Homo sapiens: one gene and its partners. The protein of the gene in region 2 purifies or fractionates together with the protein of the main gene of each other region. This does not show direct contact. Each region holds a gene or a part of one and is shown on either strand. Other genes may lie near its edges. The genes, in order: PPP2R1B, FOXO3, CDC27, FOXM1, ARHGEF2 and PINK1.

Region 1 (3,500 bases), on a different chromosome or scaffold from region 2:
AAGGCTTTTTATGACCCGCCTCTGTAGGATTATCATATGCCCAGTGGTACTGCATGAGAAGAGGTGACAGTAGGCAGGGAACAGACTGCAAAAGGCCTTGATAACCTCTTCCATTCACATTGGTCATCTTTCTGTTTTTTGAACTAACCAAGCTCATTATTCCCTTAGGACCTTTGCCCTAGGTCTTCCCTCTAATGAAAAGCTCTTTCAAGCTTTCTGTGGCTGGCTCCTTGTCATTCAGGGATCAACTTCAATGCATCTCCTCAGGGAGGTTTTCCCCAACCACTCAACTTAAAATAGCCTCACAGTCATCCCTTACTACATCATCCTACTCCTTTTTTCTATAGAGTACTCATCACCATCTACTTATTTTCTTGATTGATTGTTGTCTTACTCCATTAGAATGTAAATGCCACTAGAGTGAGGAACCTTGTCTGCCTTGTTTCTTCTGTGTCCTCAATGCTAGAATATACCAATAATAATGTATTGAAAAAATGAGTTTCAGAGGCTTGGAAGCATGAAACAGGCTGGGTTCAAAACTGCCGGAGTGTGGCTGGGTGTGGTGGCTCACACCTGTAATCCTTGCCTTGGGAGGCCAAAGCAGCAGGAGGATTGCTTGAGGCCAGGAGTTCAAGATCAGCCTGGGCAACATAGTGAGACCCCAACACTTAAAAAAAAATAGCTGGGCATGATGTCATGTGTCTGAGTCCTAGCTATTCGGGACGCTGAGGCAGAAGGACGAGGAGTCTGAGGCCGCACTGAGCCATGATTGTGCCACTGCACTTCAGCCTGGGCAACAGAGCAAGACCCTGTCTCTTAAAAAAAAAAAAAAAAAAGAACTGCTGGAGTGTGAAGTGTTGAGGCTGGGTAGGCAGAGTGGTCATCAAGGGCCAGGCAGAGTTCAAATCAAGAGACCACTCATAAGCAATTCTCAGGAGCATGGCCTCATCCTGTAGTAATGATAGCTATTATCCAGTGGTACTGCACGAGAGGGGGTTACAGTAGGCAGGGGACAGATCATGAAATGCATTGGCAAGTGAGAAACAGTATCTTTTCAATGAGTTTCTGAAATACCTTCTAGGAAAGCTGAATACTGTCTACCTGTGTGTATCAAACAATTTTTAAAATATATTATTAGACACACTTCTTTTCTTTAACTCATTATGCTTCTGTTTCACTCTTGGTTAGTTCTATATGTGGGTTTTATGCTTTAAAATCTGTAGCTCATGGCATGTGTAGAATCTACCTGGACTACATGCAAACTCAGTAAGGCAGAGGTTCAGAGAGCCAGCCTGTTTACACTTTTTACTAGGCCATGCCATATTCAGTTACTGCTCTTAATCCAGACCATCCACCCCATTTGGCTTCTTTTATTTCTAAAGCTGTAAGCAAGGTGTCCTACCATCTCTGTACTTTACCTTTTTTTTTTGAGACAAGAGCCTCACTCTGTCACCCAGGCTCAAGTACAGTGGCACAATCTCGGCTCACTGCAACCTCTGCCTCCCGGGTTCAAGTGATTCTCATGCCTCAGCCTCCTGAGTAAGCTGGGTTTACAGGCGTGTGCCACCATGTCTGGCTAATTTTTGTATTTTTTGTAGAGACAGGGTTCCACCATGTTGGCCAGGCTGGTCTCGAGCTCCTGACCTCAAGTGATCTGCCCACCTCGGCCTCCCGACGGCTGGGATTACAGGTGTGAGCCACCGTGCCTGGCCAGTCTCTGTAGTTTTCACTTGATTGTTCTGTCAGAAACTCCTTTCTGCCCTATGGCTAATGGAAAGTTGCTGAATGTGTTCTGAAAAAAGCAATTTTGCATTCAGCATTTTATAGGTTGGATAAAAGGATGGGATGGAGATGGTGGATAAGGGTTGCTTGCACCTCTGGGAATGGTGGAAAGATACTGAAAAGGCTGTGGACTCAGTGACCTGACAAGCTGTTATCCTGTATTTGTGGTGCCTAACATTGGTCATAGTTTTGTACTTACTCTTGAGGAAATATACATGATCCTGTCTGAATTTGGCTATGTATCTTTTAAACCTAGTGATTCAACTCACAGTAATATTAATATTGTGTCAAGTCTTTTACACTGTGTCATTTGTAGACACCATCTGGGAATTGCCATCTGGGACACGAGATCTTGGCTTTTCTACAGAAGTCGTGTCTTTGGGTTGGCCGCACCATATGTTATCACTGTGTGAGCTGAAAGTAACCATTTGGTATGATGCAGCTAACATTCTGGTTACGTGTACCACCTCCCTTCAGTCACTTTAAAAGGTGATTATCTGTTTCTAACCTGATTCAATAAGTTTTCTTCTCTGGTTTTCCTTTTTAATCCATTCAGCCTCCTTTGGAAAATCTGGCAACTGTGGAAGAGACTGTTGTTCGTGACAAGGCTGTGGAGTCCCTGAGACAGATCTCCCAGGAGCATACTCCTGTTGCTCTGGAAGCTTATTTTGTACCTCTGGTGAAACGCTTAGCAAGTGGGGATTGGTTCACCTCTCGCACATCTGCATGTGGTTTGTTCAGCGTTTGCTATCCCAGGGCATCAAATGCTGTTAAAGCAGAAATCAGACAGTAAGCCATGGTATTTTTTTGCCTTGTTAAAGCAGAAATCAGGTAGTAAGCTATGAGTTATTTGGGATTACTGGGGACTTGTAGCTGACAATTTACATAGTACCTTGTTACCAATGAGTGGCTGATACTAGGATAGTAGGATTTATGACATCTTTCTTTTTTTTTTTTAAGAGATAAGGTCTTGCTCTGTTGTCTAGGCTGGAGTGCGGTGGCACAATCATAGCTCACTGCAACCTTGAACTCTTGTGCTTAAGTGATCCTCCAGCCTCAGCCTCCAAGTAGCTAGGACTACCGACATACACTACTGCGCCTGGCTAATTTTTAAAAAAAATTTCTGGCTGGATGCAGTGGCTCATGCTTGTAATCCCAGCACTTTGAGAGGCTGAGGTGGGAGGATTGCTTGAACTCAGGAGTTCAAGACCAGCTTGAGCAACATAGTGAGACCTTGTCTCTACTAAAAAGAAAAAAATTAGCTGGGCATGGTGGGACCCGCCTGTATTTCTAGCTACTCAGAAGGCTGAGGTGGGAGTTCACTTGAGCCCCCGACAAACAACAACAAAAATATTTTTGGCATATAGATAGGGTCTTGCTATGTTGCCCAGTCTGCTTTCAATTCCTGGCCTCAAGCAGTCCTCCTACCTGGGCCTCCCAAAGTGCTTTGATTACAGGTGTGAGGCACCATGCCTGGCCTATGATGTCATTTTTTATTATCCAGTTGAATATGTTTTATTTTTGTTACTTCTATAAGTAGAAGCTTAGTCACTGATTATTGTAAGATAAAACCTCTAAAAGTCTGTCTGTGTGTATGGGGGGCAGGTTTATTCAGTGTTATTTGATGGGAAATACCTTCATTGTTTTATGTTGCAGGCAATTCCGTTCCTTGTGCTCAGATGACACACCAATGGTACGACGTGCTGCTGCTTCCAAAT
Region 2 (3,500 bases):
AGAAGACCAGGGTTTCCTTTAAAACACTTGCTTTAAGTTTTTAATCTCCACACCCCCTCTCCTAAATTTTCCTTTTCTAATGATGACAATAAACTTACATGGAAACACTATATATCAGAGTTCTTTAAAAAATAATCAAGGTATTATTTTAGCTGTGTGGAGAAAAAAATACTTGACATCAGCTTAAAGACTTGTGTACTCCCTCTGCTGGCTCTGAATTTAAAGTAAATTCTCAATACCTTCAAGGGCTAACTTAACTAACTTCACTAGACATCTGAAATACAAGGAAGGCTGGTTGCAGGGGCTCATGTTTATAATCCCAGCACTTTAGGAGGCCCAAGTAAGAGGATCGCTTGAACCCAGGAGTTTGAGACCAACCTGGCAACAAAGTGAGACCTCATATCTCTACAAAAAAAACATAAAATTAGCTGGGTGTCGTGGCGCTCATTAGTAGTCCCAGCTACTAGGGCAGCTGAGGCAGGAGGATCATAGCTCTCTACAGAGAGAGCCAGGAGTTTGAAGCTGTGGAGAGCTATGATTGTGCCACCGCACTCCAGCCTAGGTGACAGAGCAAGGCCTTGTCTCAAATAAAAAATTTAAAATAAAAATACACAAGGGAGCCGGGTGCAATGGCTCATGCCTGTAATCCCAGCACTTTGGGAGGCCGAGGCAGGCAGATCATGAGGTCAGCAGATCAAGACCATCCTGGCTAACACAGTGAAGCCCCGTCTCTAATAAAAATACAAAAAATTAGCTGGGAGTGGTGGCGAACGCCTGCAGTCCCAGCTACTTGGGAGGCTGAGGCAGGAGAATGGCATGAACCCAGGAGGCGGAGCTTGCAGTGAGCCAAGATCACGCCACTGCACTCCAGCCTAGGCGACAGAGCGAGATTCTGTCTCAAAAAAAAAAAAAAAAAAAAAAAAAAAAAACCACGCAAGGGAAAACATGATGTGGATTCTTCCACCCCACCCCACCCCCTAATGGTTTTCAAACAAATTCCTAAACACGTACTGAAAACTGCCAAACACATCTCTGTTGGGTTTACTATAGGTTCACTCCAGAAGGAAGGTAATGTATGCTGTTTGTTTATTTGTTTGTTTGGGGGAGAGTTTACTTCCTGCTCCAGCCTTGCCCCCTACACATGTGCCACATGCTTTCCTTACTCTGTGCTCACCTCTCCACTGCAGTCCTAGGGCACATCTGGACACCAAGGTGTGGTGAGCCTCCAGAAGATAACCTGGCCTCCTCACCCCAGGCAATGACCCAGGAGTAGCGGAATTACTAGAAGAACCACAGCCCAGCAGAGAAGTCATCCTCTTCGCTTATTATGTTATTCCATAGTAGTAACTGAGGCACTGCAGAGAAAAAGTCTCAAGATTAAAACCTCAAAAACTCAGGAGTGAAAAGTGGAACAAGCGAATTATAGAAAAGCCTGGCTTGAAACACACTCCAATCAGACATTTCCGTTTTACCAAGAGTGGTACATCACAGTACTCTATGGATGCCAGCTACCGTAGTTCTTTTTCCTTTAGGAGAGACTAAGATACTGGGAAATGAACGTTGTTTGGTCAGGAATAAAATGGTGAAAGATACTGGGTCTGTCTGGGCAATGATGCAGTCAGAACTGGGGTGTTCTATCATCATCACTAGCCTAACCACATATTCAGAACTCTAACTTGGAAGAACTGCAGACTGGTCCTTGAAATAGTTCATCTCAAAGACTGTCTGCTATCTCCTCTCCTTTCATACATGACTTCTATTTCCCAATCCATGGACAGAAAACTTGAAGTACATTTGGGACTTCTGCCCCAAAATGCAGAACATTACAAACAACTAAGGCTTTACATAACAGCTTTGTTCCTAAAAGTGAGTAAAATAAACTTTAGGCAAAACAATTCTATGGTGACTTTCTCGACACTGCATGTTGATGATACAAATAGCGGGTTTACATACAGATGGCAAACTTCATTTCCTTTTTCTCTTAATGCAACAAGGTCATCCCAAGATCAGGCTTCCTTCAGTTTCTGTGGTAAGTAGTGATGGACACTTATGGAGTTTTCAGAGACTTATGCATTGGGTAACAAGGCACTGCAAGAAACCCCAGATAGCACAGCATCATCTCACATTTACACCACATCACATCAACATCGATGCTAGGAGGTCTAAAGCTGATGCCACCTTCAGAGCTGCAAGTATCCAAAAGACTCCACTCATGACACCAGCTCACTCCTGAGTCACATCAGCCCCTTTCAGAGTCACAGCCCCAGAACTAAGGCTATCCATATGGGTTGATTATAAAATCCAAAAAGCAGCTCCAAATATTAGAAACACTTATTTGTCTGGCAGACACATTCCCTAATTTAAAGCCTCTTATACTGTGCTTAAAAATATTCAACAGTCTTAGCAAAATGACAAAATAAACAGGTAGCAGCCATGGGGTGGGCAGGGTAAGGTGGCGTTGAAAGAAAAGGCATTTAGCAAGGTAAGTAGAGAGTGCTGATGGAGAACACAAAAGGAGAAACACAGCGACTCCAGTGCGAGCTAGCCTAGAAGAGGGGAGGAGAAGCAGAAGACAGCAAGTGAAGAGCTTGAAGAACTTGAGGCAAACAGCACTGAGATGAACAGCTGTGAAACCACAATGGTAGGCAGTAGACACTACAGTACAGTGGTATGAACACACGCTTTAAAAAAAAAAAAAAAAGAGAGAGAGAGGGTCTCACTCTGTCATCCAGGCTGGAGTGCAGTGGTGCAGTCGTGCTCACTGCAGTCTCAAACTCCTGGGATTAAGGGATCCTCCTGCCTCAGCCTCTCAAGCAGCTGGGACTACAGGCATGCACCACCACAACAGAGCTAATTTTTTTTTTTTTTGAGATGGAGTTTCGCTCTTGTTACCCAGGCTGGAGTGCAACGGCACAATCTTGGCTCACTGCAACCTCCGCCTCCCAGGTTCAAGCAATTCTCCTGCCTCAGCCTCCCTAGTAGCTGGGATTACAGGCATGCGCCACGATGCCCGGCTAGCTTTTTGTACTTTTAGTAGAGACAGGGTTTCACCATGTTGGTAAGGCTGGTCTCGAACTCCTGACCTCAGGTGATCCACCCACCTGGGCCTCCCAAAGTGCTGGGATTACAGGCATGAGCCACCGCACCTGGCCTAGTTTTCTTTTTTTCTGGTAGAGACGAGGTCTCACTTTGTTGCCCAGGCTGGTCTCAAACTCCTGGCCTCAGGCAATCCTCCTGCCTTGGCCTCCCAAAGTGTTAAAATTATAGGCATGAACCACTGCACTGACTGGACACACCCGTTACTCCACCCCTACTAGCTGTGGAACCCTGAACCCAGTCACTCACATAGTCCTAGCATGTTTCTCACCTGCAAAATAAGGTAGTTAGATGATCTTTAAGATCTCTTTTAGTTCTGAGTTTTAGGCAACAAGTAATACAGATGAGTCAGTGGCATCAAGGCTCCACATCCACTCCAGAGGAAGGCCAGATCTACATCAGGC
Region 3 (3,500 bases), on a different chromosome or scaffold from region 2:
CAAACAGGTTACATCTAGCATATCAACTGATATTGTCCACCAAGAAAACTGTTGCCAAGAATTCTGAGGTTGGTTCAGTGGGAATGAGTACTGTAATGGATTAGTGATGCCTACTATGGTTGCAAATCAGAGAAGTGGTAATTGCTACTCTTGGGAAAGCGGAATCAGACAGATTACTAGTTACCGCCTGTGGACATTAGTCTCAGTTCTTCATCCAGAAAATGGCAATAGCAATGTCTATTTGATAGGATTATTGAAGATTAAATTAGTAACTAATATTAAATACTTAGAGTACCTAGTATACAGTAAGAAATCAATAAGTGATAGAATTATTGTTATTATTACTGAGCCAGGATAGTATCTGCTCTTACTACACTTAATTCTAAAATCTTTCCTCATATAAATATGGTTAAACCGAATGGTGAGGTTCTATATTGAAAGAAACTAACATTTACTGAGCAACTTTCCAAGTGCCAAGCATTGTATCAGGTACATAAATAACGTGGATTAAACAGCTTTATGTGGACTAATCTGGGAATCTTGCCACCAATTCTATGGGAAAATCTAATTGAATTCTAAACCATGAATTTACAATTTTTAAGAGCCTAACTATAATAAACTAGAAACTGCCTATTCTTTAATAATAAACAAAAACAAAAAGGAAATACTAGAAATAGAAGACAGTGGCCGAGTACAGTGGCTCACATCTGTAACTCCAGCTCTTTGGGAGGCTGAGGCAGGAGGATCACTTCAGTCCAGGAGTTCAAGGCTGCAGTGAGCTATGATTGTGCCACTGTACTCTAGCCTGGGCGACAGAGTGAGATTCTGACTCAACAAAAATTTTTAAAAATACAGCAAAATATGGGGCCTGCCTAGGTATCAATGAAAATATTTTTAAATAGATTATTCACAATAAACATCACTTTTGCATAAGTGAATGGAGTAGATTAATCTATTGTATAATCTTCTTTCTAAGCCTTCCATTCCTTCTCACCTTTCTAATCTTTTCATTGGGACCTTAAACTCCTGCTGCCCAGATCTTCCTCACTTTTCTCACTGAATTCCCATTCTCCACCGAGGAGACAGCTCTCTCACATGGACAGTAATCACCTTACATCCCACTATCTCAGAGTCAAGGTAAGGCTGGTTTCCACTTAACTTCTCAAAACTACTTCCAAGCATTGCTCTTTGTCCTTTTGTGAAATTTCCTGCCCCTGAGGTTTAGGCCTTGTTCTCACAACTCTCAGCTACTAAACCCATACTGTTTGACTTGTAAATTCCATTTAAAAGTACATAACCCAAGGAAATGACTCAAAAAAAAAAAAAAGCTGTACACAATGATCTATATCAGCATCTTAGAAAGGGAATTATAATAATGACAGAAACAAAACATACATTATCAGTGGTGTTTATTAAGCATTGATTACCAAGCCAGATGGCTGTGCTAAGGGCTTTAAATAAACCATCTCATTGAATTTTTAATTCTAAGGGGCAATGATTATTTTATAGATGAAATATCTGAATTTTCAGATATTAAAGTAACTCGTCCAAGGTTATAAAACTGTACATTTAAGTGACAGGTTAGGATTTGTTCCAAGGCTATAGAGTCTAAATCCATGTTCTTCACCATAGAATACAGACTCTTTTCTTAAAAAAAAAAAAAAAAAAAAAAAATACATGGCATGGTGGCCCATGAGTATAATCCCAGCACTTTGGGAGGCCAAGGCAGGTGGATCACCTAAGCTCAGGAATTTGAGACCAGCCTGGGCAACATAGCAAAACCCTATCTCTACCAAAAAAAAAAAAAAAATTAGCCAGGCGTGGTGGTCCGTGCCTGCGGTCCCAGCTACTTGGGAGGCTGATGTGGGAGGATCGCTTGAGCCTGGGAGGTAGAGGTTGCAGTGAGCTGAGATGGTCCCACTGTACTCCAACATGGGTGACAGAGTGAGACCCTGTTTCAAAAAAAAAAAAAAAAAAAAAAAAAAAAAAAACCCAAAACAACAAAAACCCTGGGGGAAAAAAAAACCTAAAGATTGAAAAATGATTAAGTAAATCATAGCATATAAACCTGAATCAATTCTACATAGTTATTAAAAGTAGTATGTAAGGGAACTACACAGAAAAAAAGTAAAGATTTTATGAACTAGTGTCAATCAGAAAAACAACAAGATGATGATAGCTAGAATCTTGTTACAGTGATAAAAAGTTATGGAATTTCATATATGTTATTCATTTATCATTCTACAGCAATGAATAGATTTCAAACCTTCTGCATAAAGGCGTTCTGCGAGGAAAACCGCATCTCGGTAAGCATAGTGGTTTAGTGCTTGCCATATAGCAGCCTGCAAATGGAGGAAAAAGAACATAAATATACATACATACAGACTTTCAAGGTAACTACTAGCACACAGCCTTACATCAAATACTGAAATTAATATCCCTAATTTAAGTGATAAAACCCCAATGCCCACAGAGCAAACTCCAGAGTGTGCCGGGCAAGGCTCTTCACAGTATGGCTCCTAACATATCTGAATTTCCTCACTCAACTCTCTATGGACTTTTAGGCTTCTGTGCCTTTGTACACCCTTTTCCTCCATTGGGCAATGTGGGCTCCCCTCACCAGTCTCCCCTTATAAACTGCTCGTCCCTAAAGATCCAGCTTAAATAACATCTGCCCCATAAAGCTTTCCTGGCTGATGTCAAGCCATTTCTTTTTTAAGATACCTCTTCTAGTAGAGCACTCATAACATGGTTATTTGTTAACAGGACTGCCAACCCTACTAAACTACAGACTTTTAGCAGCAGTGGTTCTCAACCACTTTATGTGATATACATGACAGAGATATTAAAATGTATGTCATCCTCCCACAAAAACTTCCCTATCTATTACCTTTAATGCCACTCAATTCTCATCCACTCCAGGAAGCATATTGGAATGCAAATGAGTAAAGTTATCATAGGAATAACTTTTAATTTTTTGAATATATGTTTTCTCTTTTAGAATTACAAAACATATAACCTAAAGTATATATGAGATAGAAGGACATTTTAAGTAACAATAACCAAAGACATTTAGGCCCATGTACTCACCACCCAGCTTAAGAAATAAAATATCTCTGAAACTCCCTGTGTGTTCCTTGTTGATACCAAAACCTCTCCCTGCCCCAAAGAGGAAACCACCACACTGAATTTTCTTGACCTTTCTCTTGGTTTTCTTCACAATTTTATACATTTGTACATATCATCTCTAAGCAGTATAACATTTACTTTTTCCTGTTTTTGAACTTTAAATAAATACAATCATATTGTATACATTCTGCTACGATTTGCTTTTGAAATCCAATGTTTTGAAAATTCATTCTTGATGTGTGTAGCTAGAGTTCATTTGTTTTCATTGCTGAATAAATAATATTTCCATTGTATAAACATATCAAAATCCAAAATGTATTTTATCTATTTTACAGCATGTGGACATTTGGGTTATTTCTAGGGTGTTTTTT
Region 4 (3,500 bases), on a different chromosome or scaffold from region 2:
GAAATTAAGGCTGGGTGTGGTGGCTCACGCCTGTAATCACAGTGCACTGAGAGGCTAAGGCAGGAGGAGTGCTTGAGACTAGGAGTTCAGACCAGCCTGGGCAACATAGTAACCAGCCTGGGCAACTGTCTCTACAAAAAAAAAATTAGCGGACTGTGGTGGTGCACCTGTTATCCCAGCTACTTGGGATGTTGAGGAGGGAAGAGCTTGAGCCCAGGGGGCTGAGGCTGCACTCCAGCCCAGGCAACAGGGTGAGACCCTGTCTCAAAAAACAAACAAACAAAAAACTAGGAAAGTAAGCTGATGGAAGGGAGTAAAATTAAAAGTTCTACCATGAATTAGCCAGGCGTAGTGGCGGGCGCCTGTAGTCCCAGCTACTCGGGAAGCTGAGGCAGGAGAATGGCGTGAACCCAGGAGGCGGAGCTTGCAGTGAGCCGAGATCGCGCCACTGCACTCCAGCCTGGGTGACAGAGCGAGACTCCATCTCAAAAAAAAAAAAAACATAGTTCTACCATGAGGGGCCAGGTGTGGTGGCTCATGCCTGTAATCCCAGCACTTTGGGAGGTCGAGACGGGTGGATCATTTGAGGTTAGGAGTTCGAGACCAGCCTGACCAACATGGTGAAACACTGTCTCTACTAAAAATACAAAAAAATTAGCCAGGCGTGGTGGCGCATGCCTGTAGTCCCAGCTACTCGGGAGGCTGAGGCAGGAGAATCGCTTGAACCTTGGAGGCGGAGGAGGTTGCAGTGACCTGAGATCTGCCATTGCACTCCAGCCTGGGTGACAGAGCGAGACTCTGTCTCAAAAAAAAAAAAAAAAAAAAGAAAGAGTTCTACCATGAGGAAAACAAAGCACACTTGACTTGGAATTGAGCACCCGTCAGAAGACCTCATTTGTGGCTCTGACACCGACCAACTGCGTGAGCTATGTTGACTCACAGGCATCTCGGTCTTTCCATGAATGAAGTGAAAGGAAAACCCCTGCCCACTAGAAATGCTATGTGACGCTACAGGAGATGACATCTTGGGTCATGAGGCTCACAGACAGCATTTTTTTTTTTAATCAAGACATTTTCATAAAACTACTTAGCCACTCTAGCTGCTGGCATCTAGGACGGCTGTTGAGTGTAGCAGAAAAGTGGGCTTGAGTGCTACATTGAAGACCCTCCATGGACTTTAGGTAGTAACACATGAAGTAGTTAAGGAGCTCTTCTTAATGATTTTGCCTGGATTCAATAAGATTGAGTCACAATCTAAAAGATACATTTGTTTATCATTCTAGTGTCCTTTGCACTTAACTGCTGTCCCAGATACAAGTTGCAGTACAGCACTGGAGAGACTGTCAGGCTGGGCTGACCTTGATTTTGGTTGCTGTGGGACACATTACCTTCCAGCCTGGCTTGGCAATGTGCTTAAAGTAGGGAAAGTGGTCCTCAATCCACGTATAGATGTCTTTCAAAGTCATGCGCTTCCTCTCAGTGCTGTTGATGGCGAATTGTATCATGGCCATGTAAGAGTAGGGTGGCCGCTCAGACACAGAGTTCTGCCAGGACGCTGATGGTCTCGAAGGCTCCTCAACCTGAGGGTTATGACACAGGGAATGACATGAAAGAGTTCATGAGAAGCACCCCCAACCCAAGCCCTTGAAGAACATCTAGAGAAACCTTTATCCCATAGGACGGTCTAGAAACAAACTCATCTGAGACCACTATCTCATAGAATAAAATTTTAGAGTTGGGAAGAATCTTGGAGATGATCTAGCCTAGACCCTAGCCAATAAGAAACTGGTTTTGTCATCCATCATTTTGTTGAATTTGGAGAAAATCCAGTCCCTTCCAGTTGAAATTTCTTAGGAAAGTTTGAGTATGTACTTTGATTCTCAAAGCATTGATGTTACACTAAAACCACGCCCGTTTTTCAGACTTTTGGGTCTAGAAACCTAGGTCTTAGTCCCATTTCTGTTCCTGATGTGCTGTGAATAAACGCATCTCATTTCAATGTTTGTATGAGAGAAACATTCTCAAGACTATGAGTCAGACAATGTCTGCAAAGCACACAGTTAGCTAAGTTTTAGGCAAAGAGCTGATCAATCACATTTCTTTTTCTTTTTTTGAGACAGGGTCTCACTGTGTCACCCAGGATAGCGTGCAGTGGCTGGATCACAGCTCACTGCAGCCTTGACCTTCCCAGGCTCAGGTGATCCTCCTGTCTCAGCCTCCAAGTAGCTGGGACTACAGGCATACACCACCACGCCCAGCTAATTTTTTTTTTTTTTTTGAGATGGAGTTTCACTCTTGTTGCCCAGGCTGGAGTACAATGGTACGATCTCGGCTCACTGCAACCTCTGCCTCCTGGGTTCAAGCGATTCTCCTGCTGCAGCCTCCCAAGTAGCTGAGATTACAGGTGCCTGCCACCACGCCCAGCTACTTTTTTTGTATTTTTAGTAGAGATGGGGTTTACCATATTGGCCAGGCTAGTCTCGAACTCCTGACCTCAGGTGATCCACCCACCTTGGCCTCCCAGAGTGATGGGATTACAGGCATGAGCCATTGCGCCTGGCGATTTTTTTTTTTTTTTTCGTATTTTTAGTAGTAGAGACCAGGATTTTGCTATGTTGCCCAGGCTGGCCTAGAACTTACGGGCTCAAGCAATCTGCCCACCTTGGCCTCCCAAAGTGCTGGGATTACAATTGTCAGCCGCTATGCCCGGTCTCATTCACATTTTTAAAATTGGAGATATTACTTTCTAAAGTACACAAATTTTATGTATATAGCACAATTAATATTTACTTACATATACACGCATGTAAATTTTCACTTTTTTTTTTTTTTTGAGACAGAGTTTCACTTTTGTTGCCCAGGTTGGAGTGTAATGGCACGATCTTGGCTCACCGCAAGCTCTGCCTCCTGGGTTCAAGTGATTCTCCTGCCTCAGCCTCCCGAGTAGCTGGGATTATAGGCATGTACTACTGCACCCAGCTAATTTTGTATTGCTAGTAGAGGCGGGGTCAGGCTGGTCTGGAACTCCCGACGTCAGGTGATCCACTCACCTTGGCCTCCCAAAGTGCTGTGATTACAAGCATGAGTTATCGCGCCTGGCCAAATTTTCACTTTTAAAGATTGTTGAGCTGGAGGCTATGATCCTAAGCGATTTAATGCAGGAACAGAAAACCAAATATTGCATGTTCTCACTTATAAGTAGGAACTAGGCTGGGTACGGTGGCTCACGCCTGTAATCCCAACACTTTGGGAGGCTGAGGCGGGTGGATGACGAGGTCAAGAGATTGAGACCATCCTGGCCACCATGGTGAAACCCCATCTCTACTAAAAATAAAAAAATTAGCCGGGCGTGGTGGCGGGCGCCTATAGTCCCAGCTACTCGGGAGGCTGAGGCAGGAGAATCACTTGAACCTGGGATGCAGAGGTTTCAGTGAGCAGAGATTGTGCCACTGCACTCCAGCCTGGCAACAAAGAGAGAATCCGTCTCAAAAAGAAAAAAA
Region 5 (3,500 bases), on a different chromosome or scaffold from region 2:
ACAGCAGCTTCCTGCAGCAGCATAAAAAGGAGGTGATGAAGCAGCAAGATGTCATCTATGGTAAGCCAAGACCACCCTAGTCTTCCTCTTCCTTCACCAGGTCCTGTTTATCTACTTCCTTCTTTATTTTTCTTTTTCTTTTTTTTTTTTTTTTTGAGATGGAGTCTCACTCTCTCAACCAGGCTGAAGTGCAGTGGCATGATCTCGGCTCACTGCAGCCTCCACCTCCCAGGTTCAAGCGATTCTCATTACAGGCGCCTGCCACCATGCTGGCTAAGTTTTGCATTTTTAGTAGAGACGGGGTTTCACCATGTTAGCCAGGCTGGTTTCAAACTCCTGACCTCAGGTGATCTGCCCGCCTCAGCCTCCCAAAGTGCTGGGATTACAGGCGTGAGCCACCGTACCCGGCTGTGTCCTTCTTTCTACCAGCCCCTACCTCTCAAAACCCTTTCCCTCTTGGCCTACAAGACCCTGCCTGGTATCCCACAGGTTGCCCACTAGGTCCCTACCTCTTGATGCTGTTGGTCTCCAACACCCTCTCTTTATCCCTTCTTTATCTCTGTCTTCAGTCTTTACTCTGTGCTTGTTCCACGCTTAACACCGTGCTGGAGACTGTGGGAAGCCTCGACATGTAGAAGACATATGGTTCTTACCCTAAAATAGCTCACAGCTTGAGATGATAAGGTGTAAAGATAAAAAATGGAACTGGGCGTGGTGGCTCATGCCTATAATCTCAGCGATTTGGGAGGCCGAGGTGGGAGGATCACTTGACGCCAGGATTTTGAGACCAACCTAGGCAACAAAGCAAGACCTCTGTCTCTAAAAAAAAAATATATATATATATATATGTATATATATATATATATATATATATATATATTTTTTTTTTTTTTTTTTTTTTTTGAAGCAGAGTCTTGCTCTGTCGCCCATGCTGGAGTGCACTGGCGCTATCTCGGCTCACTGCAACCTCCGCCTCCCAGGTTCAAGCAATTCTCCTGCCTCAGCCTCCCAAGTAGCTGGGATTACAGGCGCCTACAACTACACCCGGCTAATTTTTGCATTTTTAGTAGAGACAGGGTTTCATCATGTTGGCCAAGCTGGTCTCGAACACCTGACCTCAGGTGATGCACCCGCCTCGGCCTCCCAAAGTGCTGGGATTATAGGCGTGAGCCACCGTGCCCAGCCGTCTTTAAAAAATATTTTAAAAAACTAGTCAGGTGTGGTGGCATGTGCCTATAGTCCCAGCTACTTGGGAGGCTGAGACAGGAGGATCGCTTGAGCCCAGAAGTTCGAGGCTGCAGTGAGTTATCATTGTGCCACTACACTCCAGCCTGGGCACCAGAGTAAGACCTCATTTCTGGAAAAAAAAAAATAATAATAAAATTTTTGAAAGATAAAAATGAGGGCCGGGTGTGGTGGCTCATGCCTGTAATCCCAGCACTTTGGGAGGCCGAGGTGGGGAGATCACGAGGTCAGGATTTCGAGACCAGCCTGACCAATATGAAGAAACCCCATCTCTACTAAAAATACAAAAATTAGCCGGGCCTGGTGGTGCGTGCCTGTAATCCCAGCTACTCAGGAGGCTGAGGCAGGACAACTGCTCGAACCTAGGAGGTGGAGGTTGCAGTGAGCTGAGATCGCGCCATTGCACTCCAGCCTGGGCAATACAGTGAGACTCTGTCTCAAAAAAAAAAAAAAAAAAAGATAAAAATGATTAGAAAAGTATCTAAGATCATAATAATGCAGAATATTAACCTGGAATGGACCTTGAAAACCTCACGTGAACTGTGAGGTCCTTATCCTAGGGCCCCACGAGTTTTAGCCAAGCCAGGGTAGAGGCCAAATGTCCCAATGTCCCCCACAGAGCTAATCCAGACAGAGCTGCACCATGTGAGGACACTGAAGATCATGACCCGCCTCTTCCGCACGGGGATGCTGGAAGAGCTACACTTGGAGCCAGGAGTGGTCCAGGGCCTGTTCCCCTGCGTGGACGAGCTCAGTGACATCCATACACGCTTCCTCAGCCAGCTATTAGAACGCCGACGCCAGGCCCTGTGCCCTGGCAGCACCCGGAACTTTGTCATCCATCGCTTGGGTGATCTGCTCATCAGCCAGGTGGGAAAAGGCAGGACCCCTGGGTGACATTCATGGAAGGAGGTGTGACTGGGTTGGGCATTTCTTGGGTCCAAATTCTAGGGGTTGGAGGGGAGCCAGGGAGAGCTGGAGAAACAGGAAGCCAGCCTGTTTGGCAGGAGGCCAGAGGTGTGTCCAGTGGGTAAAGTGTGGCTTTGGGGGAATGCTGACCTAACCTTACTCGACCAACTTCTAGTTCTCAGGTCCTAGTGCGGAGCAGATGTGTAAGACCTACTCGGAGTTCTGCAGCCGCCACAGCAAGGCCTTAAAGCTCTATAAGGAGCTGTACGCCCGAGACAAACGCTTCCAGCAATTCATCCGGGTGAGCGGACCTCTCCAGATCCCATGCTCATGGCCCAAACCCACCCTCCCCAACTCATGGGGGTAGTGCCTGTGAGCTGCACCCACATGGAGGTCAGGCATTCGCCACCCGTGCAGACCATCCATACACAGATCCTGTCAGCAGTAACCCCTCAGAATGCTAGAGCACGTTGTGGTAGTTTCCCAAGTACTTTTTGCTCCTTCAGTTGGTCCTCACAACAAACCTGTGGCGTTGTTATCCCCATTTTCCAGATATGTCACCTAGGCAAGCATGAGGTAAATGGCCACGCCAGGGCCAGCACCAGAGCTCAGGCCCCAGGCCTTTCTGTTGCCCTCCCCTCTGGCCCTGAGCCCTGCCTCCTCCCTTGTAGAAAGTGACCCGCCCCGCCGTGCTCAAGCGGCACGGGGTACAGGAGTGCATCCTGCTGGTGACTCAGCGCATCACCAAGTACCCGTTACTCATCAGCCGCATCCTGCAGCATTCCCACGGTGAGTAGGCAGGCCCAGGAGAGGGCCACTGGGAGACGGCCACCTGGGGTGAGGAAAGGCTCGGTATGACCACAGGAAGGGTGGGGTCGGGTGTGAAACCCTGGGCAGCCTCTAAAGGTGGAATCAAGACACGATGGGAACTGGGGTGTGAGTGAAACTGGTTGAGCCGTTCCCCATGCCAACCCCCGGTGCCAGGGATCGAGGAGGAGCGCCAGGACCTGACCACAGCACTGGGGCTAGTGAAGGAGCTGCTGTCCAATGTGGACGAGGGTATTTATCAGCTGGAGAAAGGGGCCCGTCTGCAGGAGATCTACAACCGCATGGACCCTCGGGCCCAAACCCCAGTGCCTGGCAAGGGCCCCTTTGGCCGAGAGGAACTTCTGAGGCGCAAACTCATCCACGATGGCTGCCTGCTCTGGAAGACAGCGACGGGGCGCTTCAAAGGTCAGACCTGCTCGGCAGACTAGGCAGGAATTCAAAGTCAGATGGAGAGTGGGAGATGCCTGCAGGTCTTAGAATCAACCTCTCTTGGCCGGGTGCAGTGGCTCAACGCCTGT
Region 6 (3,500 bases), on a different chromosome or scaffold from region 2:
CAGTGAGCTGAGATGGCGCCACTGCACTCCAGCCTGGGCAACAAAGCAAGATTCTGTCTCAAATAAATAAATAAATAAATAAGTAAATAAATAAAGAAATAATAAAAGCCAGTTCCTCTAGTCAATTATTTTAAATCTTCTAGTTCAAAAATTTATCAGATGTATGAATCTCCTTACAATTTTCCTAGGCAAGTGGCCATTCAGCTTCTACTTGAATGCTTCCAGTGGTAGGCAACTCATTTCCAGAGGCAACTGGGCTTACATTTGGACAGCTTTCATTGTTTGAAAAATTTAATTAATTAATTAATTTATTTTGAGATGGACTCTCACTCTGTCGCCAGGCTGGAATGCAGTGGCACAATCTCGGCTCACTACAACCTCCGCCTCCCGGGTTCAAGCAATTCTCCTGCCTCAGCTTCCCAAGTAGCTGAGATTACAGGCGCCCGCCACCATGCCCAGCTAATTTTTGTATTTTTAGTAGAGATGGGGTTTCACCATGTTGGCCAGGATGGTCTCGATCTCTTGACCTCATGATCTGCCCGCCTCAGCCTCTCAAAGTGCTGGGATTACAGGCGTGAGCCACTACCCCCGGCCGAAAGTTATTTTTTATAATGAGCTAAAGTCTACTTCTCTTTTACTTTATTATTTTTTATTATTTTTTTGAGATAGGATCTCACTCTGCTGCCCAGGCTGGAGTACAGTGGCACATTCATAGCTCATTGCAGACTCTTAACTCCTAGGCTCAAGTGATCCTCCGACCTCAGCCTCCCAAGTAGCTGGGGCTACAGGTGCATGCCACCATGCCTGGCTAACTTTTTTTCCGGCTAATTTAAAACATATTTTTTTTTTGTAGAGAAGGGATCTCACTCTGTTTCCCAGGCTGGTCTCAAACTGCTGGCCTCAAGCAATCCTCAAGCAAGCCTCCCAAAGTGTTGGGATTACAGGTGTCAGCCACTGTGCCGGGCCTCTTTATTTACCTAGGAAAACTTGCAGCACTGAGGTCCTTGTTCTTTAAGTGGGCTAGAGAAAGGAACTTGGGAAGTGCTGTCTCTCTGCAAAGAGAGAAAAAAAAACCCCGTTCTAAGGGAGAGATTGCTAACCTCTTGTGTGCGGAGCTAAATAAAGACATGACTTAGAACACAAAACCAGAGAGGACCTGAAGAGTCAGTCCTAAATGCTCCTGACCCACCCTCTAGTGCCCCTGGAGAGCTCTGATGGTGCAGCAGGTTCCTACCTGGGTCCAGCTCCACAAGGATGTTGTCGGATTTCAGGTCTCTGTGCGCGATGCCCTGTTGAACCAGATGGTCCACGCCTTCCAGCAGCTGCAGCAGCATCATGGCGGCGAGGCGGGGGCTGGGTGTGTTCACACAAAGGTACTGGCGCAGGGTACAGGGATAGCTGGCGGAGAGGGGAGAGGGCCTCTGGCTACCACACATCGACGACTCCCAATACGTTTTTTTTTTTTTTTTTGAGATGGAGTCTCACTCTGTCGCCAAGCTGGAGTGCAGTAGCACGATCTTGGCTCACTGCAACCTCCACCTTCCAGGTTCAAGCAATTCTCCTACCTCAGCCTCCCGAGTAGCTGGGATTATAGGTGCCCGCCACCACACCAGGCTAATTTTTGTATGTTTAGTAGATACAGGGTTTCATCATGTTGGCCAGGCTGGTCTCAAACTCCTGACCTCAAGTGATCTACCCACCTCCGCCTTCCAAAGTGCTGGGATTACAGGCGTCAGCCACCATTCCCGGCCTCCTAATAACCTTAATCACTGTTAGGGTTAGGCCGTTCCTCTTCCCCTTCCAGGAGCACTTTGATTCCCACTTTTCCCCAGCATCCTTTCTGTTCCCTCCCACTCACCATCCTCAAATTAGGAAGTAAGAGTTGGGGCTCCCTATATTCAAAGTAATGGTGCAGATAATTATTTCCTTAAAATAAAATACCCACTATAGCAAAGTTAGGGGATACAGAGGGTGAGGAAGGAGAACGGTTTTTATGTTAAAAACAGATAAGTCCAGCCACAGAAAAGGTTAACAGTCAAATGGACCAAAAGGACTAGGTGACAAGTATGTTCTGGATGAAGATGAGAGTTTGTTTCCATGAAAAATCGTCCTACAGGGAAAATGCTCTCCAGGGCAGATATGTTCCCTTTGCATGGCTTTCTTCTCCGGAAGGGTGATGACCCTGTTCTCCAAAACCCCCTGATCAAGGTGCACATGGAGGGCAGGAACCAGCTCCCCTTGGGAGATGTATCAGCTCCAGGCCCTGCCGCGCTGCTGTCACTTACTTCTTCATAACGAGGAACAGCGTCCGGCCATGGCCCAGGCCTTCAGGGTGGAGGCGTGAGGGCAGCACATCAGGGTAGTCGACCAGGGCCCCTGGCAGCAGCGGCACGGAAGAGGTGAAGGCGCGGAGAACCCGGATGATGTTGGGGTGAGGGGCTAGTTGCTTGGGACCTCTCTTGGATTTTCTAGTCAGCCAAGTGAGACAAACATATGAGGCCAGCATCAGATACAACACCTGGAAAGAATAACCTAAGGCCACACCAACACTGGCACTGACATTCATTATTCACTTACTATCAAATGTTTATCATAGATTTGCTATGTGCCAGGTACTGTACATGGTGTTGGAGAACACATCTGATGACTCCCCTACCCATCCTTCAATCCATTTGTCCATCCGTCTGTCCGTCCGTCCATCCGTACACCCATCCATCCTATCCATCCCATGTGGCAGAACACAGGTGGAGAAACCCTGGTATCAGACTGCCTGGGTTTGCATTCCAGGTCTGCCACTGTAAGTCCTTGGCTGAGTTGCAGTAGCCCCAACCTTATCCACAGTTTTGCTTTCTGCAATTTCAGTTATCTACAGTTTGAGAATAGGTGAGTACAAGAAGATATTTAGAGAGAGGAGAGAGAGAGAGACCACATTCACATAACTTTTATTACAGTATATTGTCATAATTATTCTATTTTATTAGTTATCTTTAATTTTTTACTGTGCCTAATTTATAAATTAAACTTTACCATAGGTATGTGTGTATAGGAAAAAACACAGTATATATAGGGTTTGTTACTATCTGTGGCTTCAGGCATCCACTGGGGGATCTATCTTGGAATGTGTCCCCTCTGTCCTTATCTTCTCTGGGCTCAATCTCCAGGGTGCAAGGGGAATGCAGTGTTAACACGCTGCATAAGGTTGTCAAAGTGTGGAAGGCACCTAGAATCGTGTCTAGCACAGAGGAAGCTCTCAGCTGCTATTAGCTGTACTATTATTCATTCAACCAATACGCACTGTTTGCATGCTGAGTACCAGACATCATGCTGGAATGCTGTGGAACTATGGCACAGAACAAGACAGAGTCCCTGTCCTCATGGATTTGCAGTCTATCAGGGGAGAGAGATATTCATCAATGAGTAATCATGTGAGCTCCCTAAGAGCAAGGACTGTGCCTGAATTTTCTCCATTATTCCAAGTCTAGTACAGTAGTTGGCATAGA

The links.
Region 1: the proteins of FOXO3 (region 2) and PPP2R1B purify together in Homo sapiens (affinity purification with mass spectrometry, with the first as the bait; one large-scale study listed by BioGRID). This does not show direct contact.
Region 3: the proteins of FOXO3 (region 2) and CDC27 purify together in Homo sapiens (affinity purification with mass spectrometry; one large-scale study listed by BioGRID and IntAct). This does not show direct contact.
Region 4: the proteins of FOXO3 (region 2) and FOXM1 purify together in Homo sapiens (co-immunoprecipitation; one study listed by IntAct). This does not show direct contact.
Region 5: the proteins of FOXO3 (region 2) and ARHGEF2 purify together in Homo sapiens (affinity purification with mass spectrometry; one large-scale study listed by BioGRID and IntAct). This does not show direct contact.
Region 6: the proteins of FOXO3 (region 2) and PINK1 purify together in Homo sapiens (affinity purification with western blotting; one study listed by BioGRID). This does not show direct contact.

Annotation. Positions count from the first base shown.
Region 1 is NC_000011.10:111,759,890-111,763,389, reverse strand, and holds part of PPP2R1B (serine/threonine-protein phosphatase 2A 65 kDa regulatory subunit A beta isoform), read left to right. Parts: intron 1-2,338; coding exon 2,339-2,571; intron 2,572-3,438; coding exon 3,439-3,500. UniProt on the Homo sapiens protein: The PR65 subunit of protein phosphatase 2A serves as a scaffolding molecule to coordinate the assembly of the catalytic subunit and a variable regulatory B subunit.
Region 2 is NC_000006.12:108,567,417-108,570,916, reverse strand, and holds part of FOXO3 (forkhead box protein O3), read right to left. Parts: exon of another isoform or gene 3,368-3,500; intron 2,685-3,367; exon of another isoform or gene 1,175-2,684; intron 1-1,174. UniProt on the Homo sapiens protein: Transcriptional activator that recognizes and binds to the DNA sequence 5'-[AG]TAAA[TC]A-3' and regulates different processes, such as apoptosis and autophagy.
Region 3 is NC_000017.11:47,179,296-47,182,795, forward strand, and holds part of CDC27 (cell division cycle protein 27 homolog), read right to left. Parts: intron 2,343-3,500; coding exon 2,267-2,342; intron 1-2,266. UniProt on the Homo sapiens protein: Component of the anaphase promoting complex/cyclosome (APC/C), a cell cycle-regulated E3 ubiquitin ligase that controls progression through mitosis and the G1 phase of the cell cycle.
Region 4 is NC_000012.12:2,867,175-2,870,674, forward strand, and holds part of FOXM1 (forkhead box protein M1), read right to left. Parts: intron 1,581-3,500; coding exon 1,389-1,580; coding exon of another isoform or gene 1,344-1,388; exon of another isoform or gene 1,040-1,343; intron 1-1,039. UniProt on the Homo sapiens protein: Transcription factor regulating the expression of cell cycle genes essential for DNA replication and mitosis. Plays a role in the control of cell proliferation. Also plays a role in DNA break repair, participating in the DNA damage checkpoint response.
Region 5 is NC_000001.11:155,961,548-155,965,047, reverse strand, and holds part of ARHGEF2 (rho guanine nucleotide exchange factor 2), read left to right. Parts: coding exon 1-60; intron 61-1,864; coding exon 1,865-2,115; intron 2,116-2,329; coding exon 2,330-2,455; intron 2,456-2,825; coding exon 2,826-2,943; intron 2,944-3,138; coding exon 3,139-3,387; intron 3,388-3,500. UniProt on the Homo sapiens protein: Activates Rho-GTPases by promoting the exchange of GDP for GTP.
Region 6 is NC_000001.11:20,643,458-20,646,957, reverse strand, and holds part of PINK1 (serine/threonine-protein kinase PINK1, mitochondrial precursor), read right to left. Parts: intron 2,469-3,500; coding exon 2,286-2,468; intron 1,399-2,285; coding exon 1,235-1,398; intron 1-1,234. UniProt on the Homo sapiens protein: Serine/threonine-protein kinase which acts as a sensor of mitochondrial damage and protects against mitochondrial dysfunction during cellular stress.